Homo sapiens: one gene and its partner. The protein of the gene in region 2 binds, or shares a complex with, the protein of the main gene of each other region. Each region holds a gene or a part of one and is shown on either strand. Other genes may lie near its edges. The genes, in order: RAB3GAP2 and RAB3GAP1.

The links.
Region 1: the proteins of RAB3GAP1 (region 2) and RAB3GAP2 are in contact, whole or in part, in a cryo-EM structure (PDB 8VYB), measured with the Homo sapiens proteins. Residues at the interface, in NP_036365.1 of Homo sapiens: Thr19, Ser21, Trp23, Glu24, Glu142, Ser143, Asn146, Leu147, Leu149, Ser150, Ser153, Ile154, Ile169, His170, Trp173, Arg174, Met176, Arg187, Asp189, Glu191, Met192, Val193, His194, Leu195, Arg196, Pro199, Tyr202, Ile211, Ser214, Lys215; in NP_036546.2 of Homo sapiens: Arg197, His198, Pro199, Gly200, Ser276, Pro277, Phe278, Asp279, Met281, Lys282, Ser285, Asn286, Ile287, Gly289, Phe290, Asn291, Ala292, Ile294, Arg377, Phe378, Gly379, Leu380, Pro381, Asp382, Arg385, Cys395, Thr397, Leu398, Arg407, Arg415.

What each region holds. Positions count from the first base shown.
Region 1 is NC_000001.11:220,181,084-220,197,325, reverse strand, and holds part of RAB3GAP2 (rab3 GTPase-activating protein non-catalytic subunit), read left to right. Parts: intron 1-927; coding exon 928-1,076; intron 1,077-1,948; coding exon 1,949-2,028; intron 2,029-2,158; coding exon 2,159-2,248; intron 2,249-3,946; coding exon 3,947-4,086; intron 4,087-6,041; coding exon 6,042-6,258; intron 6,259-6,805; coding exon 6,806-6,949; intron 6,950-7,179; coding exon 7,180-7,262; intron 7,263-7,558; coding exon 7,559-7,623; intron 7,624-11,584; coding exon 11,585-11,675; intron 11,676-13,162; coding exon 13,163-13,290; intron 13,291-14,394; coding exon 14,395-14,608; intron 14,609-14,971; coding exon 14,972-15,069; intron 15,070-16,242. UniProt on the Homo sapiens protein: Regulatory subunit of the Rab3 GTPase-activating (Rab3GAP) complex composed of RAB3GAP1 and RAB3GAP2, which has GTPase-activating protein (GAP) activity towards various Rab3 subfamily members (RAB3A, RAB3B, RAB3C and RAB3D), RAB5A and RAB43, and guanine nucleotide exchange factor (GEF) activity towards RAB18.
Region 2 is NC_000002.12:135,128,070-135,144,311, forward strand, and holds part of RAB3GAP1 (rab3 GTPase-activating protein catalytic subunit), read left to right. Parts: intron 1-1,925; coding exon 1,926-2,018; intron 2,019-2,482; coding exon 2,483-2,652; intron 2,653-4,825; coding exon 4,826-4,915; intron 4,916-5,791; coding exon 5,792-5,964; intron 5,965-7,195; coding exon 7,196-7,250; intron 7,251-7,494; coding exon 7,495-7,863; intron 7,864-8,558; exon of another isoform or gene 8,559-8,686; intron 8,687-16,242. UniProt on the Homo sapiens protein: Catalytic subunit of the Rab3 GTPase-activating (Rab3GAP) complex composed of RAB3GAP1 and RAB3GAP2, which has GTPase-activating protein (GAP) activity towards various Rab3 subfamily members (RAB3A, RAB3B, RAB3C and RAB3D), RAB5A and RAB43, and guanine nucleotide exchange factor (GEF) activity towards RAB18.

The DNA of each region.
Region 1 (16,242 bases), on a different chromosome or scaffold from region 2:
ATTTAGTAAGGTCAGGCACAGCAGCACACGCCTATATTGGCTGGGCACAGTGGCTCACACCGGTAATCCCAACACTTTGGGAGGCTGAGGCTGGAGGATCACCTGAGGTCAGGAGTTTGAGACCAGCCTGGCCAACATGGCAAAACTTCGTCTCTACTAAAAATACAAAAATTAGCTGGGCATGGTGGTGCGCGTCTGTAATCCCAGCCATTCGGGGAGGCTGAGGCAAGAGAATCGCTTGAACCTGGGAGGCAGAGGTTGCAGTGAGCTGAGATTGCACCATTGCACTCCAGCCTGGGCGACAGGGTGAGACGCCATCTCAAAAACTAAAAAAAAAAGAAGTGAATTGGTATTTGGGGATATAAGTGGACTGTATACTTCTGGTACCTCTGAGTTTCATATCTGTTCAAAAAATTAAATTTTGTTTTTATGATATTCTATAGATTATGGAAATTATAGATGGAAATTTTAATATTTATTATTATTATTTTTTTGAGATGGGGTCTCGCCCTGTTGCCCAGGCTGGAGTGCAGTTGGTGTGACCTCAGCTTACTGCAACCTCCACCTCCCAGGTTCAAGCAATTCTCCTGCCCCAGCCTCCCAAGTAGCTAAGATTACAGGCACCCACCACCATGCATGGCTAATTTTTGTATATTTAGTAGAGGCGGGGTTTCACCATGTTGGCCAGGCTGATTTCAAACTCTTGACCTCAAGTGATCCAACTGCCTTGGCCTCCGGAGTGCTGGGATTATAGGAGTGAGCCACCATGCCTGGCAGAATATTTTCTGATGTTGACTTTGTAGCTTTTAAAATGACTTTTGGTTATTAAATAAAACTAAACATTTAGCATCTTAGAATGGAACTGAAGTAAAAATGTAATGACCGCAATAACATTGTACATTCAAATCACTTTTTTTTTTTTATTAGGTATTATGACTCTGTCCCCCTTTGATCAAATGAAGACTGCCTCCAATATAGGTGGATTTAATGCAGCAATTAAAAATAGTCCACCTGCCATGTCTCAGTATATCACTGTAGGGTCCAATCCATTTACTGGCTTCTTCTATGCTTTAGAGGTATGAGTTTTATCAATGATCATGAGTAAGGCTGCTCTTGATTTTACAATTTGTCTACAAATTGGATATGGTAACTTGCTTAGCCTTAGAAGATTAAGCAGTTTACATTTCTAAATTTCAATTGAAACTAAAATTAATCTCAACTAGCTTTCTTCTAAATTCTTTAGATTAACTGAAAAGGTACTACCATCAGTATAAAAGGAAATTCTTTGTTTCTGAAGCCCTGAGTTCTTTGATAGCTGAGATGTCTTTAAATATTGGTGCAATAGTCAGGAGCTCAGGCTTGTTAATGATGCCAGCCCACTAGGGATTTGAGTAAATGAGGAGTTGTAAAGACAGAACAAGCTGCCAACTATACTTGTTATAAGTGGTGAAAATTGCTTCCTAAAATAGTGGAAAGTTGAGTGTTAGATTTGGCAGCTCTTGTTTCTCACTTAAAAAGCATGCTTCTCAGAATTGTCCAAAATATCTTTTTACTTTTATAAAAATGTGTGTGTGTATATGTGTGTGCATATATATATATTTAAAGAGAGAAAGGAGCCAGTTATGTGTAGGTGTGAAATCCATAGTCCAGCTAGAATAATGTAATCTTAATGTCCTAGTTTAAAATTTATTTGAATGAAATTACAATTTAAAGAGAGAAATTCTAATGGTAAAATAGACTAATTGTGATTTTATTTTTAAACTATAGAGTTAAAACTTTTTCTCATATTACGCCTAAAATAAACTTTTTACTGTACTCTGAAAGAAGCTGAGTTGCTAGTCCAGCCTTTACAACTTTTCAAAGCATTTTAAAGTAAGCTTTATTTAGAAAGTATGTTTGTTTCTTTGTAAGCTACTAAGTTTTCTCTTTCAAATGTTCTGTTTTTCAGGGAAGCACACAACCATTATTATCCCATGTTGCACTAGCAGTTGCAAGTAAACTCACTTCTGCTTTATTTAATGCTGCCAGGTAATTACTTAACAATTAAAATAACAAATATCTCATTTGTATCTAGCTTGCTTTTAACTTATATTTTGATAGTTTGCACTTTAAAACCCTGGAAGCTCAGTTTTATATTCTAAGTTTTCTTTCTTTTCAGTGGTTGGCTTGGTTGGAAAAGTAAGCACGAAGAAGAAGCTGTCCAAAAGCAAAAGCCGAAGGTTGAGCCAGCTACCCCATTAGCTGTAAGGCAAGTCTGTCATGCTTCCCAAATTTTAGTCCTTTTAGAAAGGTACTGTTAAATGTATGGTCTTTCCGTGTGCTTGGTTGATTTGCTGATCTTGTCTTTGGAACTTCTGAAAGCCATTACAGTGGAATTTCTTTTCCCACTAGAATGTAAAACTCCATGTGAAGAGTGATTCTTACCTGTTTTGTTCACAGCTTTATCCCTGTTATATACTAGGTATTCAAGATGTATTTCTTGAGTGTGCTTTTTAACAAATAAACTTAGCTTAGTTGTAGGAGAATTAATTCAGTGATAGCTGTTAAATTTCTTTTAAAAGTTTAGATAGTTTGTTACTAAGTTGTATAAACTTTAAAAGTACTTAGTGATTTCTTTTTAAAAAAGTCATCCTAGTGGATTGCGGTGGCTCACGCCTGTAATCCTAGCACTTTGGGAGGCCTAGGTAGGCGGATCACTTGAGGTCAGGAGTTTGACACCAGCCTGCTCAACATGGTGAAACCTTGTCTCTACTAAAAATACAAAAATTAGTCAGGCATGATGGCATGTGCCTGTAATCCCAGCTACTCCGGTGGCTGAGGCAGGAGAATTGCTCAAACCCGGGAGGCAGAGGTTGCAGTGAGCCGATATTGCACTGTTGCACTCCAGAGTGGGGGACAAGAGCGAAAAACTCCATCTCAAAAAAAAAAAGTAAAAGCAGGAGTCCTGTATTCAGGCACTCTTTAAACAGACTCCTGTCCTGTGCTTCCTTGTTTACTTCAGTAGTGCTTTAGAATGTGTTAGTATATTGGTGAGTTTTTTTTGGTGGAGGGAGCATGATTTTTGTTGCTTTTTTTTTTCATTATTATTTTTTAGATAGGAGCATGTTTTCTAATGTTTGGTTTTGTTTTAAAATCATTTTTTATTACCTAATATAAAGTACCACCATGAAGGGAAATAGAACACCTCCTCTTTATGGATGTTCTTCACCTAAGAAGAGCCAACTAATTATTAAAATTTATCGAAGTATAGCTTCTAAGTTTTTTTTCATCTTTTTAAAAAATACATTGTAACATATCACATTTCCTAATATCAAGAGTCAATAAATTAGTCACATGGCCCTGTGCGTCTCTAATAGATGTAACAAAGGTTGGGCACCTTTGTTTCAGGGACTTTTCTCTAAATGAGCTTTCCTAGTTCTCTTTTAGTACTTCTTTACTTTTATTTTACTCACAATTCTAATGAGGTTGATTATAGAACAACAGAAGTTTAGAGATAACTATTTAGAAAAAGGAAGGTTTTTGCTTCAGGCAGATTGGTGTCAGCAGGATGTCATATCTTGCAAAAAAGAGAAAGATTAAGAAGAAGAATTTAAAATAGACAAAAGATGCCTGTGTGGGAGCATATTCTAAAATTTAGTTGATGGTGAGGACATTGTTTTCTGTGACATGCCTTTTAATCAAATATAGTTATACTTTATATTCTCTAAAGGTATAGGGTTGTGGGTATCTATTGAAAACCTACATAGGACTGTGGTTTTATTTCTTTTATGTATTTTATATTACAAATGTCAGTTGTGATTAATAAATTAACTATTAATCCAGGTAAAATTCATATTTCTTTATATAAAAACAGATTCAGCCTATTTCATTTATGCATTTCGTTATTCTGTTATATGTTTCTGAACTGGAATGTGATTTGAGCATTTTATTTTCTTTTAAATATCAGATTTGGACTTCCAGATTCTAGACGCCATGGTGAAAGCATATGTCTGTCTCCATGTAACACACTGGCAGCAGTAACAGATGATTTCGGCAGAGTTATTTTATTGGATGTAGCTAGAGGAATTGCAATACGCATGTGGAAAGGTACTTCTTACAAAAATCCAGAAAAACAATTAATTCACTTTTTACCCCAATAGTTGAGCAATGTTATCATCCTTCAGCTTCTGGATGATAACTCTGTTTAATTCTTCATGTTTACATTTTCTTTTTTTGACATGAACTCAGATCAGCAACCACTTGGTCCAGTAGTCAGTTGATACATCTTTTAGGTTTGATCACCTCATAGCCATGTTTAACCTTTGCCTTTTGCACTTTCTTTCAATTCTCACTGTTATTGTCAATTTCTGAGTTCAGTTTCTTGCCCCTGCTACATTTATTCCCCTTCACAAAGCCATTCTTGAGCCAAATGTTCTCCCCAAATCTATAATGCCAAGTCTTTCAGATTTAAGATAGCAAAACCCATCTTCACTGACTTGACTTTTATATCCATATGCTTGGGTCAATCCACCTGGTGTGTCAATAAGTATGTCACTTAGGAGTTTCCTTCAGCTATTATTAACAGACCTGAGTAACAGACCACAGTATCTTCAGGAACCCAGTCTTCTTCCTTGTAGCTTCCCCACTCAAGGTTCTCATAGACAGCCCTCTTATCTGCATTCCGGGAAGGAAGCAGAAAGGAAGAAGGCTTCTCCTGGCAACTGAGTCAATCTACTTTGAAGATATTCCCCGAAGTCCCTTCAACCATTATCTACATTAGCCAGGACTTAGTGACATGGCCTCATCTAACTATAAGGGAGACTTGAAAATATCTTTTAACTAGGCACATTGTGAATAATATCTCCCTGACTAAGAAAGAAGGGATGATTACATTATTTAGAATCATCTGGAATAGTAACATGTCAGCATAGACCACAATTTATGGTGCAATCTTGTCTATCCTGTAAAATGTGAGGAATAATGAATGGATTGAGGTCATTCAATTACTCTGGACCAGATTGAAGCCACTATCACCTTCTTGCCAAAGAACTCCTGCAGTGATAGACAGAGGCAGTCTTTACCTACTACATGTCTCAGTATCTGTAGAAATAGTTTTAATACTGCAGATACATCATTTCTCCTTGGTGTTTGTCTTCTGAAACAATATCAAAGGTATGTTCTCAGCAAGACTTTTCTAAAATACGAAGACGAAGCTGTACTGACTGCTCCAAATCCACTATGGCAATCTTATTCCTTGCATCATTGCCTGTCTGCAGCTAGTACAGCCAGTTTTTCTTTCCATTGTGTCCTTGGAAAGAAGGATCAATTGCCTATGTGAGGGACCACCCTAAAATGGAAAATAGCATCAGCTACGTCTCCCATGCAAGAGCTTCCTCCCATCGTCCTGTAACCCATATTTTCTATCTGCATGTCACCAAAAGGCTTGTGTGGGAAGGGAAGGGAATGAGAGCAGGAGGGGTAATCAGGTGGCTTCAATTATATCTATAATCTTTTCTCTTTTTTTTTTTTTTAGAGAGTTTCGCTCTTGTTGCCCAGGCTGGAGTTCAATGGTGCGATCTGGGCTCACTGCAACCTCCACCTCCTGGGTTCAACTGATTCTCCTGCCTCAGCCTCCCAAGTAGCTGGGATTACAGGCATGCGCCGCCATGCCTAGCTAATTTTTTGTATTTAGTAGAGACAGGGTCTTACCACGTTGGTCAGGCTGGTCTCGAACTCCTGACCTCAGGTGATCCACCCGCCTCAGCTTCCCAAAGTGCTGGAATTACAGGCATGACCCACTGTGCCCAGCCAATATTTTCTTTTTAAAGAGAAAAAGTGGTCAGAAGTAAATATAGCAAAATAGTAAGATTTGATAAGGCTGGGTGATAGACTGGTTATTATTTATTATCATTTTTTATTTAAGATATTCCATAATAAAAAATATACTTTTATAGCTTTTCTTACCCCACCCCCACCCCCACCCCCACTATTCCAGAGTACTTCAGGAGGCTACTATGGAACCTAGATTAAGTAATTAACTTCCCTTTACCTCTGTCTCTAAGGGTACCGCGACGCACAAATTGGATGGATTCAAACTGTAGAGGACCTCCATGAAAGAGTGCCAGAAAAGGCAGATTTTTCCCCCTTTGGAAATTCTCAGGGTCCAAGTCGAGTAGCTCAATTCCTTGTGATCTATGCGCCAAGAAGGGGAATTTTAGAAGTGTGGAGCACACAGCAGGGACCTAGAGTAGGAGCTTTCAATGTGGGGAAGCACTGCAGGTAAGCTGCAAATGCTGGCATTGTGCTGGTTACAAAATGAAATATAGGAATGCTTTTATTAAAATAAAGCTTTACTAAAGCTGCTTATTAGATTACAAGTTTGAGAATTACAATATTCTTTATTGTGGTTTTTCCTGTGAGTGCCTGGCATGTACTTAAGTATTTAATAACAAAAAAAAAAAATTAAAAATGCCATGATAGACTGCTGAATTAAAGTTAGCTTGTTGCTAATGTTTGTCCCTTACTTATGCTGGGAAGGCTCAAAAGGAAAGGTTCCTTTTGCCCTAGTCATAAGTGAGGTGAATGCTTTGTTTGCCATTGAAACAGGGGCCTGATTGTGTTCATTTAATTTTTTAGAATCTTTCAACAAGGCAGAACTCTGCTGGTTGAGCCCTGCTTTACTTATGTACTTGCTATCAGTATTTAGTTGCCTTATTAATGCTCCTAAATTGATAATAATGTTGGGTTTCCTAGCTATAATAAAAGCACCTTTTGGCATTTCTCCTTGTTCTAATATTTTTACCATATTGGTATGTGATTTCTTTAGGCTGCTGTATCCTGGCTATAAAATAATGGGTTTAAATAATGTTACCAGTCAGAGTTGGCAGCCACAGACTTATCAGATCTGTCTGGTTGATCCAGTGTCTGGAAGTGTGAAAACAGTGAACGTTCCCTTCCATTTAGCACTGAGGTAAGGTGTGTCCAGTGTTGCTGATTGACGCTCCTCTGCTAACTTTTCCTAGTTCCTAGGTTTGTTGTACTCTCTTTTGTAGTTGCTATTTTGTTGTTTCCTTTGTCTTTAGACTGATATCTTTAAAGTTAAATAGGAAATATATAAAGGAAAAAAAAGTTGGAGTGTGTCAGAATTAGAAAGAAAATAATTTCACATTCTGTAATAATTTGTTATATTTATTGGTTTAGTGATAAGAAGAGTGAACGAGCCAAGGATATGCACCTAGTGAAGAAACTAGCAGCCTTACTGAAAACAAAATCTCCCAATCTTGGTAGGTATTCTCTCATACAAATAATAAAGCATATTGTTCTATCATCTTTTAAATCAATAAAATATTCTGAATGGAGCAATCAAAATAATGCATGGATGAGCTTATTGGAATTGCTCTGTAAGGCTGAAGTGTGCCATCTAGAGGGTGTTATAATTCATAACAAGAAAACATTAATGTGAGAGAACCCAAAAATCCTTTAGACTCACTGATAGTACAGATATGTTCATTTTCTTTCAGAATAATGTTTCACTGTTATAAAAATTAAAATTTTACTTTGATTATTTTTTTCTTTATAGATTTGGTTGAAACAGAAATAAAGGAATTAATTCTTGATATTAAATACCCTGCAACCAAAAAACAAGTAAGTGTATATAATACACGAACTTTCCTGCTAGTAGCTATAATACATCCTTCTTAAGAAAATCTTTATTTTCCTATTTCCCCCAAACATGAGAGGCTGAAGTCTTCTTTTCACATTTTTATTGTTTATCCCTTTCTTTATTTTCAGATAGAAGTTCCTGTTGTCTCTTTAAAAAAAAAAAAAAAAATTAATATTCATGCCTGTAACTGTAATCCTAGCACTTTGGGAGGCCGAGGCAGGGGGATCATGAGGTCAGTAGTTCGAGACCAGCCTGGCCAACATGGTGAAACCCCGTCTCTACTAAAAATACAAAAAAATTAGTTGGGTCAGTATTGGCGGGCGCCTGTAATCCCAGCTACTCAGGAGCTGAGGCAGGAGAATCATTTGAACCTGGGAGGCGGAGGTTGCAGTGAGCTGAGATTGCACCATTGTACTCCAGCCTGGGTTGCCATACATCTGAGTGTGTTTTATATACACATACCTACACATCCCTACATTATATATATTATATATATAAAATAGTAAATATGTGTGTATGACCACCTACCTTAGGAAATAAAATCTTACCAGGAACTCTAAAGAGCCCTGAGTGTCCCCCCTCAGTCCCATTCCCTTCTCCCATCCCTAAGGTAACTGTAATTTAGAATTTTGTGGTTCTTTCTTTTTCTTTACTTTATAGTTACGTCATTCCTGTGTGGCTCCTTTGAAACCTGTTGATGCATTTCCTGCCTTTTCAAACTTTATATAAATGCAGTCATGCCCTATGTCTTCTGTGACTTTAGTTTTTCCTTCAGGATTATGTTTCTGTGTCATTCATATTGGTGTATGTAGTTATAGTTATAATTGATTCATTTACTATGCCATACAAATTCTGCTCACTGACTAGAATTTATTTACACTCCTGTCAGTGAACGGTTAGGTTGTTTCCAGATTTTTGACATTACAAATGATGCTATGCTTATCCATGTACATATTTCCTCATTCACATATGCAAGAGTCTCTCTGGCGTTTATACCTAAGAGTGGAATTGCTAGGGTGTGAGCTTCTTCAACTGTACTAGTTGATGGCAAATTGTTTCCCAAAATAGTTGTACTAATTTATATTCCCACCTGTTCTGTATGAGTCCCTGTTACTCCACAGCCTCAATATTCCATGGTATTGCCAGACCTTTACTTTTTGCCAGGCTCGTGGTTATAATATGGTCACCACTGGTGATTTCTTTTACTCCCACTCCTCCTATCCAAACCCCTCATAATGCTATTCAAGTCCTAACTCCACAAATTCTTACATAATGCTTCGATCCCCATGGATAACTCTGAACTCCTACTCTACTTTCAATCAAAACTGGATAGTTAATGACTACTTATTTTCTAATTATTTCATGTATGTTAATCATAGCTTCCCCGACTTTTTTTTCTTTAGGTCTTTTAAGCTCCTTCAAGTAGGAACCTTACCAAATACTTGATTTTTATAATTCACAGCATCTAAAATAATGCTACTGTGAAAATGTAAGAAAAAACTGTATCACAGGTTTTTTCTTTTCTCTTACACAGTCACTCGACACTTCTGCCACTAGATGTAGGGTTTTTTTTTTTTTTCCCACACACCAGTCAATTTCTTTGGCAGATTCTCCAGCTAACACCAGCTGGTTATTCTCTAATTCAGTTCGATTCTGACACCATCTACCTGGAGATAGCATGAGATCATCACGACAGGTTAAGAGCTCAGTCCCACAAGACTTCTACCTACTTCAGGTACCAGTCACAAGTAGTTGGTTGTCAGCTATATTTCTGACTGTCTAGCTATAAATTAGGGTTACTATGACCCCCTCTTTGCGGTTGATGAATTTGCTAGACCAGCTCACAGAACTCAGGGAAACGTTTTACTTGAACGTTTACCCATTTATTATAAAGGATATTACAGAGGGTAGAGATCAACAGCCAAGTGGAAGAGGTGCATAGAGTAAATCATATGGGAAGGGTTGCAGAGCTTCCATTCCCTCTCCTGGCAAGCCACTATTCAGGAACCTCTACACGTTCAGCTATCCAGAAGCTCTTCCAACCCTTGTCCTTTTGGGTGTTGATGGAAGCTTCATTATATAAGCATGATTGATTACATCATTGGCCATTGGTGATCAACTCAGTCTTCCAGCTCCTCTTGGCTCCCCAGAGGTCAGGGGTTGGGCTAAAAGTTTCAATCCTCAAATACATGGTTGGTTCCACTGGTAACCACCCCCTTATTCTGAAGCTCTCCAGGAGCCTGCCATGAGTGGCCTCATTAGAAAAAAAGAAGCTTCTATCACCCAGGAAATTACAGAGGTCTTAGAAGCTCCCCATCAGAAATGGGGGGTCAAAGACCAAATGTTAGAACAAAAGGTTCTCCTAGCACCTCTGTCTACAAAGGGATTAAGAGCTCTGACTGATGAACTAGGACAGAGACCAAACACTAGAACAAAAGAAACTCCTAGCACCCCCATTGTTCAAGAAATTATAGGAACTCTGTGTCAGGTACTGGGGCCATAGACCAATATGTATATTTCTTATTATTTTATAGCTACATACATGGGAGAATTCAGTGAATAGTGATACATGGGAGAATTTAGTGAATAGTGATTTCTGTTGCAGTCCGTTTTTAAAACACTTTATTGAGTTATTGTAGAACAGAAAAGCCTTTGTGACTTTTAATTGTGTCTTCCATTCTACTGACAATGCTAATTGGCTCTCATTTTGCTCAGGGTAAAGTCTCTGTTATTAGAGATGACATGATGATGACAAAGTGGGCATCTAGAGAGGCATATTGAGAAATCTGTAGTAGAAAGGGTCATAACCCACACGGTTCTTCTCATTTTTATGCCATCTTTCTTCTTATCCTAAATCATAGAACAACAAAATTGGGAAACCAGCATAATGCAAAATGTCTTCTTGATTTTCTTTTTTTTAATGGTACTTCTGAATCATGTATGAAGCTGTGAATTTTATAAAGAATGCTAGAAAACCCAGTAACAAAAGTTATAGGTCTTCTAGGACTGACTAAAGGGAAGGAAGAAACCAGTTCAGGCTTTGGGAGACTGTTGAATAATGGGGAAGAAAACAAGCTAGCTGCTAGCCTGGGTAATCATAGGCAGAACTGGAGCAGGTTATGCTTGTCCTGGGTTCTGGCCTCTTACAGTCACTTTCTTTATTGTTTCCTGGTAGTTACTTCATTATAGGCCTGACCAACATCTTGAGCCACCCTCTAAGCCCATTTCTCCTCCACAAACACGCAGAGGTTATTGTGTTATGATCGGATATTTGTCTTATCCCACATTCTCAGCCTACTTTTTGAACTATTTAATCTCATTAATTAAAACCCAACTTAATGTGCTAATATGAAAGGATAAATATGACCTTTAACTTCTGATAGTTGCTACTTTAGGCATGAAGAGATATTTTGGGACTGGTTATGAAGAATCTTAAATATCTATGGGGGTGGGGAGAGGGAGGTAGGGAAGGGTGGGTACTGTATTCATCTAGCAGGGCCTATAGATTCTGCCTGCCATGCACAAATGCAATAATTAAGGTATAACTAAGTTTTTGGCAGCTTTTGTTATTGACATGACAATAACCTCTGCTTTTCGTTTATGCCTATATAGTATAGGCATATTCAAACTCTTCTTATTGGTAAATAGCTTTATCTTTGTTTCTGTTTTGATTTGGCTATTCTGTTAAGTAGCAGTTGCCTTCTAGTTGTTTTATTCTCAGCCTGGATTTTTGTCATTTATGTCATATTTGGCATGACATGAAGTTGATTGTATATTACTTAACAACGCAACTTGAGATTTAATATATGTACACTAAAACATCTTAAATATAGAGCTTCCCTTTGAAATTTGGGGTAGTGAAAGTTTGGGCATAAATATAAGATTTAAAAAACAAAATCACTGCCTTATAATTACTAGAACTGTTCAATATCTTTCTCCTAGGCTTTGGAAAGCATTTTGGCAAGTGAACGTTTACCATTTTCTTGCCTTAGAAACATCACTCAGACTTTAATGGACACTTTAAAAAGTCAAGGTAATAGGGTTTGTACTGATTGGAGGTTATGTTCTTAACTCAAATTTTGTAACTCTGATTATAGAAAGCTATTGACTTTGTGATACCATCATGTTACTTTAATGTGGAAGTAATATAGATATAAGAAATTAAGAATCTTATTTATTCCCTATTTAATATATGTAGTTGATCTTCATCTAAGCTGTCTTTGAATGTATTGACTGTTATTGGGAAGTTGTTTTTAATTGTGAGGAAAGATGTCAGGATAGAATGATAAGTGGTTATTCTGATATAGCTTTGTATTAATGTTCTATCAGTGTATCAGTTTCCCTCGTGAACAGAGTTAAGGACTTCCAGAATCACAATCAACAATCAGATTATTATTTCTGAATTTTCTGGTCATTTTTTGATATTCAAAATTTGTCTGTACTATCACATTGTTCTTTAAAATCCATCAGTCCGTCAAAATGTATTTGTCTGAAAAAGGATTACACTTGAAACTTGAAACTGTGGGGTTGTAACACCATATTCCATCCAACTGAACTAGTAAAAATTCACTTTATTCTGAATTCCTAACATCAGTTAAATTGTGTGCAGTGGACTGATGTCATCTAGTTGTGACTTTTGTTTGTCATATTAATTATGTAAAACCAGCTTTGTGTTTTAGTTGTGTGTAAGACAGCTTAAAGTGGCTTAATACACAAATTATAATTTGTTCTTTCAGGACTTCAAACATGCTAATTTTGAGACTCTTTTTCAACCTTTTTTTTTTAACAGATACATAAAACTGACATTGGCAAATAGTGAACTCCTTTAGCATACACCACTTGTCAGAAATAAATCCCTCTTTTAAAAAGCGTGGTATACTTACAAAGCCCTCCCACCCCTCAAGGCATTCACAACATCCCAAAATTTATTAAATGAAAAGTTATCTTCCACTGGCCTGGTAGTAAACCAAACACCATTGTTGGAATTCCATAAAATCATCAGTTTCAAGTTCTACATAAACATAAGATTCCTAAAAACTTTAATCATTTTGTGTGGTCAGTTTTATTATGGCTATAAGAACTTGAACAATATTCCATGATACTGTATTTCAAATAAGATTTTGAGGGGATTATCAGTGTCTCCCTTTTTAAAGAATAAATATTTCTTTTATATTAGATATAAATATTCATACAGTATATGAATTATGTAGTCAGGGAAAATATTTTCAAAGGTATTTCCAGATAATTTCTTTAAATTTTAAGTATTAGATGAAGATATTTCCGCTTCCTTTTTTATCTCCCTACTTTTAGAGCATCTTATTTTATTTAAAAAGTTAGACATTTTGTCATGACAGAAAAATTATTTTTGCTTTCAAAACCTGGTATAGCTTAAGCATCTCAGTATTTAATACATCAGAGCATCAGGGAATTACATAATATTGAGAGATTTAATGAAAGCAAAGCCTGTTTATGAGTCTGTTAAATATATCTCTTATATATACTTTTCCTTCTGCCTTTTAGAACTTGAGTCTGTTGATGAAGGATTGCTACAGTTTTGTGCCAATAAACTAAAACTGCTGCAACTCTATGAGTCTGTCAGTCAATTAAATTCCCTTGATTTTCATTTAGACACACCATTCTCTGATAATGTGAGTAATCCCACATTTTATATTATATAAAATAATCTCTTTGATTAGTTTTACTTTTTAAAATTAGTAGTAAAGAAGTAGAAAATTAAGAATTTTTTTTAAAGCTTTAAAGGTATATTTTCCTTACCAAGCCCCCTGCTAGCTCTCTGTGCTTTGCTGCTATATTTATATTATTTATACAAGTGCTGAGATTATAGGCATAAGCCACTATGCCCAGCCATGATATGTTTTTGTACATATAGTATATAAAAATAGTTTGAAAGCCTAGCAGGTTGTATCCCTGAGAGCCACATACAGGACTTATATGTAGATACAATGAGAATATTTTTCTATGTTTTTATTTTATAGTGTTTACGCTGCTTTATAATTAAGCATTTAAGTTCAATATTTAGTTTCCTCAGAATAGTAAGAGTTGCGTTTGACACCCTTTTAAATTTTTTTCTGATTATACAGTAATACATGTTTATTAAAATTCTAGCATTTGCCAAGGCATAGTGGCTTGCACCTGTAACCTTAACACTTTGGGAAGCTGAGGTGCGAGGATCACTTGAGCCCAGGAGTTCGAGAGCAGCCTGGGCAACATAGTGGGACCCTGCCTCTACAAAAAAAAAAATTTTTAATTAGCTGGATGTGGTGGTGCACACTTGTGGTCCCGGCTACTCAGGTGGCTGAGGCAGGAGGATTGCTTGAGCCCAAGAAGTCAAGGCTGCAGTGAACCATGATTGTGCCAAGGCACTCTAGCCTGGGTAACAAAGTGAGACCCTGTCTCAAAAAAAAAAAAAAAATGCTAACATTCTAGAAGATAATAAAGTACCCTCAAGAAATATCCTAAAATGGTACTTTTAATACCATTTCTTTTAGTACCTACCTCTAGTACCATGTTTGGTTTGGTACCAAACATGCAGTGTTTCAAAATTATAGTTTACTTTATTTAAATAACTTCCTACTCATGAAACGTGATTTGTAAGTAAAGTTTTAAGCAGAATACATGATAGGTATTATATTAATTAAAAAGTCGACTTTTGCTTACAGCCTTGAATTTCAGTTCAGATAATGTGGGTGATAGATGTGGAATGTTGTTTTGTTTTGTTTTCTGTTTTAAAGGACTTGGCTCTGTTACTAAGGCTTGATGAAAAAGAACTGCTTAAGCTCCAGGCATTACTAGAGAAATATAAGCAAGAGAACACCAGGACAAATGTTCGATTTTCTGATGATAAAGATGGTGTGTTGCCTGTAAAAACATTCTTGGAATATTTAGAATATGAAAAGGATGTGCTCAACATAAAGAAAATAAGTGAAGAGGAATATGTGGCTTTAGGTAGGTAAAATAATACACTGGTCTTTGTATGCCTCTTCTTTTAGAAGAAAACATGGTAGGAACATATAGCATCTCAGAGATTCCATTTGTTTTGAAATTTAAATAATGAAAGGATTTAATGTACTGTATTTTTTGGCCAACAAAAGATACTCTGGTCAACAGGTTGTATTAATGAGTATACTAAAGAGACAATATTGGATCATGATTTGCTTTCTGCTTTAATAAATCAAGCAAATTGAACAATTAATTTCTCTTCCTTCATAATGTTTTGTTTCTCTGGAATTCCAGATTGTGATTCAATAAGATTGTTAGTCCAAATGGTAAGTAGTCATTGATTAATGTGCTTTGTTTTTCTTCTACCAGGTAGTTTCTTTTTTTGGAAGTGTTTGCATGGAGAAAGCTCCACTGAGGATATGTGTCACACTTTGGAGTCGGCTGGTCTTAGCCCTCAGCTGTTGTTGGTAAGGTTTTTTTGGTTGCTGGATGCTGTTCTTCCTTGTGAATGTCACCCAGAAGTGTCAGTCTTCTTTTTTTTTTTAACTATTGTCTTTTAGGATATCACAGAATGTCCATGAAAACTTTCTAAAAATGATCAAAGAAAATTTTAATCACCATATTTAATAGAAGTAATATTATTTATTTTTCTTATACCCTGTAATTTTTTTTTTCTTTTACTTTGAGAGAGAGAGAGAGTCTTGCTCTGTCACCCAGGCTGGAGTATAGTGGTGTGATCATCGCTCACTGTGGCCCCAACCTCCTGGGCTCAAGCCATCCTCCCATCTCAGCCTCCTGAGTAGCTGAGACTACTGGGCAATTTTTTTTTTTACTTTTGTGGAGATGGGGGTCTCGCTATGTTGCCCAGCTTGTCTCAAACTCCTGGCCTGAAGCAATCCTCCCCGCATGACCGCTCAAAGCTTTTGGATTACAGACAAGAACCACCATGCCTGGCCAATTTTCTGTAAATGTTAACAAGCATATCGTATAGTTGGCCTAAAATAAGTTTAGAATCTGTGTGCACCCATCTATATGCGTGCATTTACAGTGGAATTGGATCATCAGTAAAAAACTGTCATGTTACAATGAAAAATATCTTAAAAACAAAATAAGCTTCCCATAAAGCAATGTGGAATTGTTACCAAACATTTTCAGACTTTGAATATATATTATAATGTAATCTCTAATATAACAAATATAAAACAAAAGAATCATCCAAGGAGGAAATACAACACTAAATTTTTACCCTTTCTGAAAAAAACAAGGAAAGTTACCCCATCTTCCTTGTTCTTCTTTGTTATTACCTATCCCCTACACATGCATGCATACACAGTTGTCCCTCAGCACCCATGGAAGATTGGTTCCAGGAACCTCCCCCTCCATTACCAAAACCATGGATACAGAAGGTCCTGATAAAAAATGGTGTAATAAAAAATTAGCCAGGCATGGTGGCATGTCCCTGTATTCCCAGCTACTCAAGAGGCTGAGGCATGAGGATCCCTTGAATCAGGGAGATCAAGGATGTGCTGATTGCACCTCTGCACTCCAGCCTAGGTGATAGAGTGAGACCCTGTCTCTAAAAAGCAAAAAAGTTAAAATGGTGTGGTATTTGCATGTAACCTATGCACATCTCCTGTATA
Region 2 (16,242 bases):
GATGCATTTCTCTAAAGCATTGTTTTCTTGGGCTCTTTATCATTCATATGCTATTTGTCAAATGCTGATTAGTAGCTGCCATTTGTGCTAACTATATAATAGTGAATACAAAGATGTATAAGGTATAAGTCCACCATTGGTGAATTTGTCTAGGGTGTTAGGGCAACAGTATAGGGTCAATGTCAAGAGTATTACAGTTGGACAGACCTCAGTTCAAATCCTGGATTCACCAGGTTGGTCAAGTTTCTTAATCTTTTTAAGCCCCAGAGTCCTCATAAATAAAATAGAGATAACACTAGTACTTACTTCATAGGGTTATTGGGAGGATCAAATGAGATTATGTACCTGTATGTATGTGTATATATCACTTTTAACAGTGCCTTTGTTATAGTAAATGAACAGTAAATGGTTTCTGTTGTTTAATCGTTGAATTACTACATATTATGTTTACGTACTAAGTTGCTTCTTAGTAACATTATTATTCCTCATCTTGTTACTGTATGGTAATTGCTGAGGACCTTAGAATTGAAAGTATTCTCATTTTAGTTTAACGTTCCATGATCTTACCCTACCTCTTTTAATATTTTGTATGACTAGATTATAGACTTTTCCTACCTTTCTGAAGAAGCCTCAAAAAAGTTATGGGTTAATTCAGAATTAGTTGGTGAATTATAAAATTTAGATGTACTTGATGTATCTTAGTACTGATAGTATTTGTTAAGCATTCATTTATTTGTGTAAACATTGTAGCTGTTCAGAAGATTCAAATCGCTTTACCTCTGTTTATAATATGACAGACAGCTGGGTGCAATGGCTCATGCCTATAATCCCAGCATTTTGAGAGGTCGAGGCAGGTGGATTGCTTGAGCCCGGGAGTTTGAGTCCAGCCTTGGCAACATGGCAAAACCTCGTCTCTACAAAAAATACAAAAATTAGCTGGGCATGGTGATGCACACATGTAGTCCCAGCCTACCCAGGAGGCTGAGGTGGGAGGATCACCTGAGCCTAGGAGGTCAAGGCTGCAGTGAGCCATGATCGTGCCACTGCACTCCAGCTTGGGCGACAGAGTAAGACCCTGTCTCAAAAATAATAGTAATAATGGGCCGGGCGCGGTGACTCACACTTGTAATCCCAGCACTTTGGGAGGCAGAGGCGGGCGGACCATGAGGTCAGGAGATCGAGACCATCCTGGCTAACACAGTGAAACCCCGTCTCTACTAAAAATACAAAAAATTAGCCAGGCGTGGTTGTGGGTGCCTGTAGTCCCAGCTACTTGGGAGGCTGAGGCAGGAGAATGGCGTGAACCTGGGAGGTGGAGCTTGCAGTGAGCCGAGATTGCGCCACTGCACTCCAGCCTGGGCGACAGAGCGAGACTCTGTCTCAAAAAAAAAAAAATAAAATAAATAAAAAATAATAGTAATAATGACGGAAAGAATACCATTAATATGTAGCAGAAACTGAAATATCTTTATCCTACATGATTTCCTAATCTTCTAGAAACATGTCTTTAGCGTTTCTTCTTAATTTTATTAATGGATTTAGATTCTAGTAGTGTAGCAGTTGGGGAAAGATTACTACATACTTAGAGTAAGTTCTTGTTACTTACATAACTTAATGACAAATGGATACTGTGTCTCATTGAGGCATATAGTAAGTACTATTAGGTACAGTTATTTTTTTCTTTCCTTCTAGATGGAATTCTAAGGAAAAGCTTTTTAAATATCCTGGGACATGGAGAGAAAGAAAAGAACAAGGCTACCTTTGATATAGGATTAATTTTTGTTTTTTTCAATGGAAAAACTGAATGGTTTTACTTTCTACCATATCTTAGTTAATAGCTTTTGTGGAAAGATGTACTTTAATTTATAGGACTGATTTTTTTTTTTTTCAGTTAAGTGTCAAAAATAACTTTTTTTCCTACATAGGTGATTTTGTCACTGAATTTTTTAAAATTTGCCGTCGAAAGGAGTCAACTGATGAGATTCTTGGACGATCTGCATTTGAGGAAGAAGGCAAAGGTAACCTACATTTTTTTTTAACATTACTTTCAAATGTCTTACTGTTTTTCCTTGGCACATTTTTCAGCAACTTTTCATCTGTTTTCTCATTTTGAATTAAGTTGGATAATCAAGTTTTGATGGACTAGACAGCTACAGTTCCTTTCCAGGCTGTACCCAGTGCTTGTTAAGACATTAAAGGCATTTAATAAGTTCTTTCCACCAAAAATGTAAAATATTTTGAAAAGCAGAGTTTTAGAGGTTAAATTTTGAAGTCTCCTAGGGAGAAATAATTTGTGTGACACCATTGTCACTCATGCTTGCACATAAAGCTGAACATGTATATTAATATTTTATAATTCCAAGACCATGTAACACTAGTAAAAAGAATGAGTAAAATATTCTATATAATCATCAATTTGTTCATCACTTTCACCTGCTGAGGTTGGTGATATAATTTATATTTATTTCTGTTCTTTTTATAGAAACTGCTGATATAACTCATGCTTTGTCAAAATTGACAGAGCCGGCATCAGTTCCAATTCATAAATTATCAGTTTCAAATATGGTACACACTGCAAAGAAGAAAATCCGAAAACACAGAGGTGTAGAGGAGTCACCGCTAAATAATGATGTTCTTAATACTATTCTCCTGGTAACTAAATGTTCTGTCTTTATAGGTCTATATGCAGAATCATTTATTCATTATATAGCCAGTTCCTTTTATGTGGTAGGCAGTGACCTTGGAATATACAATGAGTAAAACAGTTACCACATTTAGAAAATTCCTACTAGTTTAGTGGTGAGAAGGAAAGTAAATAGTAGTTGTGATACCATGTTGCATGTGAGAAATCTGGCAAGGGGGCTGTGAGAGCACAGCAGGGGTGCATTTGTCTCTGTCTGGGCAGTGGGAATCAGGGAAGGCTTCATGAAGAGGGACATTTGAGCTGAATCTTGATGAAAAGAAGGCTTTAGAAGCAGAGGAATAGCAGAGGTTCGAGAGCATGTTGAACGGTTGATATTTTGTAGGGTGCTTCCCAGACCATGACCAGGGTTGAGGCTGGAGAAGTAGCAGGTAACCTGCCATGCTGAAGCACTGGCTTTTATCTTGCAGTTTAAGTAGAAGATCAACATGATTAGAATTTTTTTATTTTTTATTTTATTTATTTATTTTTTTTGAGACGAAGTCTCGCTCTGTCACCCAGACTGGAGTGCAGTGGTGCATCTCGGCTCACTGCAACCTCCACCTCCTGGGTTCAAGCAATTCTCCTGCCTCAGCCTCCCTAGTAGCTGGGACTACAGTCACGTGCCACCATGCCTGGCTAATTTTTTTGTATTTTTTTTTAGTAGAGATAGGGTTTCACCGTGTTAGCCAGGATGGTCTCGATCTCCTGACCTCGTAATCCGCCCGCCTCGGCCTCCCAAACTGCTGGGATTACAGGCGTGAGCCACCGCACCTGGCCCCGGAAGTATATTTTTGAAGGATTGCTTTGACAACAGTTGAGAGAAAGCTTTTAGTGAGAATGAGAGGGAGATGAATAGAGAGCTAAGGTGGCTCCTAGGTATAACAGAGTGGAATGGCCCCAGCCTGGGGGCCATCCACACCATGGTTTAATGTCTGCATGACTTACTGCATGACTTTGAATAAGTCACTTCAGTTTCCTCATCTAGAAAATATGGCTAACAAAACCTTGCGAGATTGTTGTGAGGATTAAAGGATCTTCTGTGACACTGCCTGGCATATATGGGTCTTTGATAAATGATAGCTATTCTTAACTGTAATTGTGGTTAAAATCATACTCCCGGAAATTTGTGCATTAAGACAATCTTGGGAAAAACCTTCAAGAAAAGTGTTGAAAAGAAAACTGGAAACTTAATGTTAATCTTATCCCCTGCCATTTATCTGAACAAAACTCTTAGCCAACTTTTTAGCTTGTACATCGTAAGATGTAGGTAGTGATACTTAGCTCAAACAGTTGTATGAGAATAGGATAATGCTGGTAATTGTGCCTTATGGCACTTGGCACATAGTAGTTCATCTAATTTTTAAAAGTCTATTGGACATGTTCTATAATGTGTGGCAAAGTATACATAGTAAGAGGGATTACTAATCAGCAGTACCACAAAACAATTGAGAGGAACAGTGATAAAAGGACTGTAAATAAATGTCTATAGAGAGCCTCCTTCTTAAGACTGTATTCTTAAAAGAATGTTATTCAAATCATGTAGCTCAGTTGTCATGTACACTGGATTTTTTTTTGACCACTCGTACATGTACATATAAACAGAAACCACATGGAAAAGGTACATTGGTTATTATAGGTTTAGACTGCTTCCTACTTTCCAGGGGTATCATAAAATAAAGCTGTGGGTCTTGAATATCATCTCTTAGTAGTCTATATATGAAAGCCTGTGGATGATGTAACTCTTCAGATCCTCATGAGTACATGAGTGTTTTTAAATTGTCTTTTGTGGTTTTGTTTTTTAGATAGTAGTAACACTAAAAAAATGTAATGGCCTTGGGTGAGCATGAAGTCACAGTGATGAGATTTTGCTTTTGCACCTTTCAGCTTACAGAATCAAGTGATTACTTTTAAGAAAAAAATTCTAATTTCTAAAATTGGCTAGTCACTGAAACCTTGTATATTTTCAAAGAAAAATAGAAAAAATTTGAGAGTGTAGAACAAACTGGCCAATACAACTGGAACATTTCTATTGTTAGAGCAGCAAAACCATTAAAAAGTTAAATAATGTCTATATGAGTTATAAAAATCAACAAAATAGGAAATGTGGTCTAAAATGTGATTATTTTTTTCCTTTCCTTCAAGTTCTTATTCCCTGATGCTGTTTCTGAGAAACCATTAGATGGAACTACTTCAACAGATAATAATAATCCTCCATCAGAGAGTGAAGACTATGTAAGTTGATGTGGAGTTCAATGTTAAAATGTTTTAAATGCACTGAATTTCTAGAGGTTCTATATATTTCTAGTTTAATAGCTTACTATATTTTTATTTTAAAAATCACCTTGGGAATTTTGGATGGCAGATCGTGGTTTCCACTTAGATAACTAGCACAGATACATATTTTGGGTAGCAAGAATTTTTCTGGAAACAATGAAAAAATAGCACAAATATACTCTACACAGCTGTAGGATTTCCCTCATTGTAGAGTTTTGGTGAAATCATTAAATTTGTGTTTCTCAGCAGATTCTTTTTGATATTTTAAAACTAGTTAGTGAATGGACAACTCTTTAATGAAGTAAAATGTGTAAAATTAGGTAAAATTTTCATGGTCTCTTTGTCTAGTCTTTGAAAAATTAAGAAGTTGAAGAATTTAAATGACAAGTGTAGATATATATCAACCTTTACAGTAGTTATTGTTGAGAAGTAGATTTGATGAGGTGAGAGAAAAAAGCAAAGGCTTTTTACATTTTCAGTTTAGATAGTTATGATTTTTGTTTTTTCAGACGTGCTCATTTTTGTAATTAAAAGATTTTTAAAACAACACATGAAATTTGGAATACTTCCTAAATATTCCACAGAAGAAATTGAAAGCTGTAACTTTAGCTTCATTAAACTATAGCTTTATCTTTTTTAATCTTAGTAGAAATCTTGAAAATGTGGGACTTCCTAAGAATAGTTTATGCAGTAGTGTATTAGACATTTGATAATGCCTAGTTTAGGTGGGATAGGTTAATTTTACAATTAAAATCTCTCCCTACGACCTTTTCAGTTATATGTGTAAAATATTTTGGTAACAAGTTTGCTTTGTTTCTATTTTGTTAAATTTAGAATCTCTACAATCAGTTCAAGTCTGCACCATCTGACAGTTTAACATACAAACTGGCTTTGTGTCTCTGTATGATCAATTTTTACCATGGAGGGTTGAAAGGAGTGGCACACCTCTGGCAGGAATTTGTTCTTGAAATGCGTTTCCGATGGGAAAACAACTTTCTGATTCCAGGGTAATAATTTCAATTTTCAATTGTTTGGATACGATTTTGTTTGTTAGCAGACATTTGACTTTTGACCTATTTTTTCCCCCTTCTAGGAAGTCTGCCCTAAGAAAGTGGCAAGAAGCTTAGACATGATTTATGTTCAGAGGTGTTCACTGCAGCAAATTTATTAATATAATAGAAAAAAAGGCAAAACCTAAATATCAAACATAAAAGAATAGTTAAATAAATTATACTGTATCTCTACAATAGAAAATTAGATTGATTACAGTTTTTCCCCCAATAATCTTTAATAACAGATGTTCATATTGTTTCTAATAAAGTAGAATATTTTAATGCATATACAAAGTACTTTTAATTATGTTGCTATATTTGTACAGGAAAAATATTATAAATACTGTGAAATGCTATCAGTTTTTCCCAGTGTGAAATTATACTTTTATTTTGTTCTTTATACTTTTATGCATTTTCAAAGTCTTTTGTAATAAACCTGTTTTTTGTAATTGACATTTTACTTAATCAAACAGAACATTTTCATTAGCACATAGGTTGATATTGCATAGTTTAGTGCTCATCTACCCATGCTATGATAGGAGAATCATGATTTTGAGCAATATAAAATGATTACTGATCCAAAAACATTTATATCATTTGCCAATCTCTGCTTAGCTGGATTCTCTCTTGGTTTTAGACAGTCCGCTCTGGAACATTTTACAGACCCAGAAGCATGTTGAATATGAGGGAGTGCCTCTGGCTGATTGCTGGGAACCTAGTAGTCTAGAGGAACCTAGAACTAGAGACAGTCCAAGGTCCTATTGAAATACAGGTGGAGATCTTGGTTTTTATAGTGAGAATCCACTGTAAGAATTTAGTACTGAATACACAAACTGATTTATTTTGTATGGTGTGAAATACTGTATGCTAGTACTTCCTGGAGTGGGTTCAGGGGCTTTTTCTCATTTTGAGTTTTTGTTAGCCTGAAAACTATCACTAATTTGCTGTTATGTTTTGAAATATCTATTATATTTGCTATTGGTGATTTGTGGACAAGGAGTATAAAATAAATTTTCATCTTTTAATTCTATGTGCTCCCCCTCTGGAATTCACTTACCTTACCTGTGGAAATCTAGTTTTGATTTCTTATCAATATAGCTAAAAATTATGGTAGTATAGAAAATAATCATATCTGAAGCAATTTTACTAAAACTAAGCTTTCTTTTCTCCTTACTTTATTTGATAGATTAGCAAGTGGACCCCCAGATCTGAGGTGTTGTTTACTGCATCAGAAACTACAGGTAAAGATTTCTCAATGACATGGATAAATGTGGTCTTGATTTAATCAGATTATTCTAATACTAAATGTAATAATGGGTTACATGCTGTTCTCATGGTGCTGCTGTAGGTTGCCTATAGTCAGTAGTCACTGCAATTCACAAGGTCCTGAGAAGTGGAGAGTGAAAATTAAATATTCAAGCAGTAGGTAGATTTTTATTTTTCTGTAACTAATTCAACTATAAATGTTATTTCTCTTTTCTTAAGATGTTAAATTGTTGTATTGAAAGAAAGAAGGCACGTGATGAGGGGAAAAAGACAAGTGCTTCAGATGTCACTAATATATATCCAGGGGATGCTGGAAAAGCAGGAGACCAGTTGGTGCCAGATAATCTAAAAGAAACAGATAAGGAAAAGGGAGAGGTAGGAAAATCTTGGGATTCCTGGAGTGACAGCGAAGAAGAATTTTTTGAATGCCTAAGTGATACTGAAGAACTTAAAGGAAATGGACAAGAGAGTGGCAAGAAAGGAGGACCTAAGGAGATGGCAAATTTAAGGCCGGAAGGACGGCTCTATCAGCATGGGAAACTTACACTGCTGCATAATGGAGAACCTCTCTACATTCCAGTAACCCAGGTAGGATGCACTAGTTCTTTCCATTTTAATTTATTTTGTGGTTTATATAACTTCATCCTAGTAGAAGATAGTGCTTTGAGTAAGGAAAATTATCCAAAAAGTCTATGTTTAGGCCAGATGCGGTGGCTTACGCCTGTAATCCCAGCACTTTGGGAGGCTGAGGTGGGCAGATCACCTGAGGTCAGGAGTTCAAGATAAGTCTGGCCAACATGGTGAAACCCTGTCTCTACTAAAAGTACAAAAATTAGCTGGGCACAGTGGCGCACACCTGTAGTTCCAGCTACTGGGGAGGCTGAGGCAGGAGAATCATTTGAACCCAGCAGTGGGAGGTTGCAGTGAGCCGAGATTGCACCACTGCACTCCAGCCTGGGCAACAGAGCAAGACTCTTGTCTCAAAAGAAAAAAAAAGTGTTTATGTTTAAAGATAAAGATATAGACTGTTTAAAGAAACTAAAGGTAAGGATTTCCCAATGACATAGATAAATGTGGTCTTGATTTAATCAAGGACCTTTAAAAGATTGGACAAAGTCTATGTTTAAAGATTAAAGAAATCTAAATAAACTTTTGGGGCTTTTAGGTTTGCCATTTCTGTAATTGAGAAATGTTTTGAAGTTTAAGTAGATCACGTCATCATATATAAGGTGATTTATAAACTGAGCAGTGAATGCTCAGATGTTTAAAAAAGAAAATCCAACTGCACTTATGTATGTTTTTGTTTAACTTGTGGACAAAGACTTATGGATAGGTGCAAAAAATAAATCCTCTTTTGCAACCCAGAACTCATTGTTCAGTATGAGTTTTGATACATATAAGAAGGGATATTATGATACCTGAGACAGTTAACTGATGGGAATATTGATAGCCATAAAGGTTGGTCCCAGACCAGGCACAATGGCTCAAGCCTGCAAGCCCCACACCAAGGTGGGAGTATTGCTTGAAGCCAGGAGTTCAAGACCAGCCTGTATAAGAAAGTAACAAACACCTCATCTCCACAAAAATTTAAAAATTAGCTGAGTATTGGGGCATGTGTCTGTAGTTGCAGCTACTCAGGAAGAGGAGGCTGAGGCAAGAGTATTGAGCCCAGGAGTTGGAGGCTGCACTGAGCTTTGATGACACCACTGTACTCCAGCCTGGGTAACAAAGACAGACCCTGTCTCTTAATTAAAAAAGATTGATTCTAGGACTGTGGAAGAGATAGTTAAACAGCATGGGATATGAAGGAAATCCTCAGCAGTATTAATTTTGCATTCCAATTTCATGTTGACTTGATACCTACGATGGCTTTTTGTTTTAAAGGCTTTTATCTTGAGAACATGATGTCTGTAGTTAAAGGTATTGGCGTATTCCACACATCTGTACTATTCTTGAGTATGATCGCTTAGGGTGTCAAATTGAGAACCAGGCAGATCCACCACCTACAGTAAAAAGGACCCTAAAGTAAATTGGTTGAAGAAGTTAGATCCCAAAGATTCTTGGTGAATTTTGAAGTCTTCATCAGTATATCCATATTAAAAGGAGATGACAGAAGCCAAAATAAAAGAATTATGGGCTAACAGGACAGCTGGATTAAAATAAGCATCAGTTTCATTAAAAAGGGCTAACTTGAAGATAAATCTTTTGACTCCAGCTCTTTAGAGGATCTGAAGTGACCTTGATGGACAGTGGAAGAAATCACAACATGGAATTACTTGAACAAAAATTTATTGACTTAAAGAAAAAGAAAAAATCCAAAAATATATAGAGAGAACAAAAGTAAATATCCTTCAATTATATGATTAGCTTTTATCTGTTCAAAAATAGTTTGAAGTCATATACACCATTAGGATGTAGAACAGCAATAACTCAACAACAACAGCAGCAATAGTTGTTTTTAAGGGTTTTGTTTTGTTTTTTTTTTGTTGTTTTTTTTTTGACACAGAGTCTCTCTTTGTCACCCAGGTGGGAGTGCAGTGGCATGACTGTAGCTTACTGCAGCCTTGACCTCCTGGGATCAAGTGATCCTCCCACCGCAGCTTCTCAAGTAGCTGGAACTACAGGTGCATGCCACCATGCCTGGCTAATTTTTCGTGGTTTTTATAGAGGTGGGGTTTTGCCCTGTTGTCCAGGCTTGTCTTAAATTCCTGAACTCAAGCCATCTGCCTGCCTCAGCCTCCCAAAGTGCTAGGATTACAGACATGATCCACTGCACCCGGCCTGAAAACATTCTATTGTGAAAATTGTAATCTAGTAAAAATGAAAGAGGCTCAACGCCTGTAATCCCAACACTTTGGGAGGCCGAGGTGGGGTTGGATTGCTTGAGCCCAGGAATTCAAGACCAGCCTGGGCAACATGGTAAACCCTATTTCTACCAAAAAAAAAAAAAAAAAAATTAGCCGACTGGGGTAGCGTACACCTGTAGTCCCAGCTACTCGGGAGGCTGAGGTAGAAGAATCAATTGAGCCCGGGAGGTTAAGGCTGCAGTGAGCTATGATTGTGTCACTGTTCTCCAGCCTGGGCAACAGAGCAAGACCCTGTCTCAAAAAAATAAAAAGTGAAAGCCACCATCCACTAATTTTGACTTGCATTCCTTGAAGTAACTAACAAGTATTATTGGTTTGGGTTATATTTCTTATAACTGTTTCTCTGCATTGATGTATAATACATATATGTGTGTACATATTAATACATGGTTTTATGGATTTTTTTTTTTTTTTGGAGACAGGATCTCATTCTGTTGCATAGGCTGGAATGCAGTGGCATGATCATGGCTCACTGCAGCCTTGACTTGCTGGGCTCAAGTGATCCTCTGACCTTAGCCTCCTAGGTAGCTGGGACTACAAGTGCTCACCACCATGCCAGGCTGATTTTTTCACTTTTAAAATTTTTGTAAAGATGGAGTCTTGCTATGTTGCCCAAGCTGGTCCTAAACTCCTGACCTCAAGCAATCCTCTGTTTCGGCCTCCCAAAGTGCTGGGATTATAGGCATGAGCCACTGTGCCCAGCCTCAATTTCTTATAAACAATTGGTATTACCAACCATATAAATTTTTGTTAACATGATGGTCAAAAGTAGTATCTCAGTGTTTTAGATTGTATTTTTCTGAATTTTCATGAACCTGAGCATCTTTTAATATGTTCGTTAGCCGTCCTTTCCTGTGAATCGCCTATGATTTTTCTTTTAGGTTGCTCCCCTGTTCTTATTGATTCATATGAATTCTTCATATTTTAGATGTGAATCTACAGTTATATATATTGTATATGTTTTCTGCTAGTCATTTTAAAAACATATGTTCATGTATTTACTTAATTATTGAGTTATAACTTAATACAATAAAGTGTACAGATCTTGGCTGGGCATGGTAGCTCATGCCTGTAATCCCAGCACTTTGGGAGGCCAAGGTGGGCAGATTGCTTAAGCTCAAAAGTTCAAGACCAGCCTGAGGAACATGACAAAACCCCGTCTCTACAAAAAATACAGAAATTAGCCGAGCGTGGTGGTGTATGGCTGTAGACCCAGCTACTTGGGAGGCTCAGGTGGGAGGATGGCTTGGGTCCGGGAGGCAGAGGTTGCAGTGAACTATGATTGCACCATTGCACTCCAGCCTGGGCAACAGAGCAAGACCCTGTCTCAAAAATTAAAAAAAAAAAAAATAAAAAGTGCACAAATCTTTAGTATACTGCTTGGTGAATTTTTTCATATTGATACATGCATATAACTACTTCCCAGATCAAGATACAGAAAATTCCCATCATCCTAGAACAGTGCTGATAAATAAAACTTTCTGTGAAGATGGAAATTCTCTACATTCTCTGTCTTTCCCATTCAATACAATAGCCATTATCCAAATGTAACTACTGAGTGCTTGAAATGTGGCTAATGTTTCTAAGGAATTAAATTTTTAATTTTAATTTATTTAAATTAAATAGCCAGATGTATTGGATAGTGAAGCCCAGGATTCCCCTCCAGCAACTCTTTCTCTTAACTTTTGTCACCATAGGTTAGCTTTGTCAGTTTTTGAACCTTTTAAATGGCATGCTTTGCTTACTCTTTTGTATATAAATGTAATCATACATTGTGTACTCTTTCGTTGTATAATCATACATTATATACCATTGAGCTTTTTTATTTACCGATTTTGAGAGTCATCCTTGTTGTTGCAGGCTTCAGTGTTTGTGCATGTGTTATTAGTATTCTATTCTATGAATTTGTCACAATTTGTTTATCCATTCACCCGTTGATGGGTATTTGGGTTGTTTTCACTTTGGGCTAATATGAATAAAGCTGCTGTGAACATTCTTGTTTCTTTTGGTAGACAAAGGCACTCATTTTCTTTTGGATATATTCCTAAGAGTAGAGTTATTGGGCTATATGGTGCAAATATGTTTTGGCTTTAGTAGATCTATCTAAATAGTCTGTCTAAGTGGTTGAACTAGTTAACCTTCTCACCAACAATTTATAGTAGTATAGTTATTCTACAGAATCCTCCCCATTTGATGTGTTCTCAAGACCACTCCCAGGTTTAGTGATTTTCTAGGAAGACTCATAAGACTTAGCCCATAATCATGCTCGTGGCTATAATTTATTACAAGAAGATCAGCAAAGAGAAAAGGCACATGGGATGAAGTTTGAAAGAGATGAGGTTTAAGCTTCCAAAAAGCTTCCCCTACTGTAGTTACACAGAGTGCACTTAATTCCTGTTGCAACAAATTGTGACCACATGTGTGAAATGTTGTCTTCCCTGGGAAGCTTGTTAGAGGCACAGCAGTGGGAGTTATCAGTAGGGGCTGGTCAAGTAGGCATCCTTTGCTTAGGCATAGGGTTAACCATACCAAAATCTAGACTCCCATAAAGAAAGTAGGTGTTTAGCATAAACCATATTATTTGCACAAAGTGTTTAGGCATAGTGAGTCATTTTTATCAGTTCTGGGAATGGTGGGAACCTTCTCAAAATCCAGGTTCTCAGCTGCCAGCCAAGGGCCAACTTTCAAGCAGGCCTTTCTAAGAATGGCAGTCTCAGACCTGCAATATTAACTCTTTTCTGCACACTTGATATTTTTGGTCATTTTAATTTTTGCCTTTCTGAAGGGTAGGAGGTAGGATCTTGTGGTTTTACATTTTCCTGAAGCATATATATATTTATTGCCCATTTGTCTATCTTCTTGGTGAAAAGCCTGTTCAAGGCCTTTGCCTATTTTTTTCTTAAAGCAGTTGTCTTTTTTTTTCTTATTACTTTATAGGAATTCTTCATATATTCTGGATATGAGTCCTTAGATACTTGTATTGCAAATATTTTGTTGCTTATCTATTCACTTACTTCTTTTTTTTTTTTTTTTGAGACAGTCTCACTCTGTCATCCAGGCTGGAGTGCAGTGGTGTGGTCTCGGCTCACTGCAGCCTGAGTCTTCCGGGTTCAAGCGATTCTCCTGCCTCAGCCTCCCGAGTAGCTGGGACTACAGGAGTGTGCCACCATACCTGGCTAATTTTTTGTATTTTTAGTAGAGATGGGGTTTCACTATGTTGGCCAGGCTGGTCTCGAACTCCTGACCTCGTGATCTGCCTGTCTGGGCCTCCCAAAGTGCTGGGATTATAGGTGTGAGCCACCGCGCCTGGCCTGTTCACTTTCTTAATGATGCCTTGGGTTGAAGAGGTGTTCTTAATTTTAATACAGTCTCATCTATCCTTGTTTTTCTTATGTGGTTAGTGCTTTTTGTGTTCTGCTTAAGAACTCTTTACCAAGTACTGAAGATATTTTCTTTTCTTTTGGAAGCTTTATTGTTTTACCTATATCATTTGTTTGTGACCCACCTCAAATTAATTGTTTGGTAAGAGGAACAGGTTAAGATTCTCTTTTCTCTATAGGGAGATTGAATTGTTCCACCACCACTGTTGAAAAGATCTGCCTTTTCCCATTGAGTGGCAGTGATATCTTTGATGTAAATCAAGCAACTGTATGTGTTTTGGTCTATTTCTGGACTATTTATTCTGTTCCGTTGGTCTCTGTCGTGTGCCAGTAATGTACTGTCATCATTATTGTAGCTTTATAATAAGTCTATCTGGTAGTGTAAATCTTCTAACTTTGTTACTCTTCAACATTATCTTAGCTATTCTAGGTCCTTTGCATTGTTATATCAATTTGAGAATCAGCTTGTTAATTTTTATAAACAAACACATATTCAAAATCTTGCTGGGATTTTAATTCAGATTGCATTGAATTTGTAGATCAATTTATGGAGAATTGACATCTTAATATTGAGTCCATTAAATATCTTCAATTTTATTTAAAGTTTCTGTTCATTTATCTCATTAGTGTTTTAGTTTTCAATGTAGAGGTCTTACATATCTTTCATTAGATATATTTCCAAGGTATTTGTAATTTCTTAAATGGTTTTATAAATGGTATTTTAAAAGTTCATTTTCCAATTTTTTTCCCTTGATAGATATAAACAGTTGATTTTTATATATTGACCTTGGATATAACAATCTTGCTACATTGACTTATTAGTAGTTTAGAGATTATTTGGAGTTTTCTACATACACAATCATGTCGTCTTTTAGTAAAGATGATTTGAATTCTGATTTTGCAATCTTTATGCTTTTGAATTACTTTTCTTATCTTATTGCAGTGGCTAGGACCTCCAGTACAGTGTTGAATACTGGACATTATTCTCTTGTTCCCAACCTCAGAAAGAAAGCATATGATAGTCATTGAAGGCACCTGATGTAGATATCACTTATCATATTAAGGAAGTTCCATTCCTAGTTTGCTTAGAGTTTTGTTTTTTGTTTTTTTTTTAATCATGAACAGGTATTGCATTTTATCAAATGTTTTCCTGTATATTAAGGTAATCCTATTTTATTCTCCCTTATTCCATTAATGTGGTTAATTGCATTGATTGATTTTTGAGTATTAAAACATCCTTACATTCCTGGTATATATCCCACTTGGGCTTTCCCTTTTTATACAGCTGGAGTTTATTTTTTTTTTTTTTAGGATTTTTATATTCATATGTCAGAGGTATTGACCTTTATTATGTTGTCCTTGTCAGGGAAGTGTCCCCTCTTTTTCTCTTCTCTGGACAAATTTGTATAAATAAGATTTTACTTCTTCTTCAAATGTTGAACATATTCACCAGTGAAACCACTCAGAATCTGAAGTTTTGTTTGTAGAAATATTTTCAAATATAGACTTACTTTTAAATTAGATTTCTTTAATAGATAAAAAACTATTCTTATTTTTTATTTCTTGTATCAACTTTGGCAAATAGTGTTTTTCAAGTAATTTTTTATTTTTCTAAATTTTATATTTACTGGCATAAATTATTTCATAGTATTCTTTTATAATCTTTTTAGTGATTATAGAATCTATAATGATATTGCAGTTTTAATTTTTAAAATTGGCATTTGGTATATTATCTCTTTTGTTCCTGATCTATAAGAGGGTTTTATTAATTTTATGAATCTTTCCCCTGAAAAAACAACTTTGGGTTTTGTTGATTTTTCTCTGTTGATTTTGTTTTCTATTTCATTGATTTCTTCTATTATTTCTTTGCTTCTACTTTCCTTAGAACTAATCTGCTATTTTTCTAACTTGTTTTATTAGCAGCATAGGTAATTGATATTCAACCTTTCTTCTGTAACATGCTACTTTTTTTTTTTTTTTTTTTGAGACGGAGTCTTGCTCTGTCCCCCAGGCTGGAGTGCAGTGGTGCGATCTCGGCTCACTGCAAGCTCCGCTTCCCAGGTTCATGCCATTGTCCTGCCTCAGCCTCCTGAGTAGCTGGGACTACAGGTGCCCACCACCACGCCTGGCTAATTTTTTGTATTTTTAGTAGAGACGGGGTTTCACCATGTTAGCCAGGATGGTCTCGATCTCCTGACCCGCCCGCCTCGGCCTCCCAAAGTGCTGGGATTACAGGCGTGAGCCACTGTGTCCGGCCCTAACATGTTACATTTTAAGCAGTCTCCTTAATTTGGGACTCAGATGTCATAATTCCTGAATATGTTCTCTTAACTCTTGCCTCTTCACTGTTTGTTCATACATTTTATCTTTTTGCATAGTGACACAGGAATTTTCTTGGCCACTTTGCCCGCTGGGGCCCTCTGTGGCTGGCAATGCTTCTGCCCAGGCCTCACTCAGCCCTGGGCCTGCCGCAGGAGGTGCTCTGTCCGCCAGGCTTGTGCACCAGCTTAGCTCTCAGCTGGGCTGAGCATGCCCTAACTCAAGCGTGCCCTAACCCACTTGTGTTACAGCTTGTACCCACATTCAGTGGGTCCCGAGTTCTTGTCCCACATCCAAGAAGAATGAATTTACGTTGACAATCAAAGGGTAAGGAAGGTGGAGAAGAATTTTATTGAGTGACAGAAACAGCTCTCAGCCAAAAGGGGCTGCGAGGGTGGTCT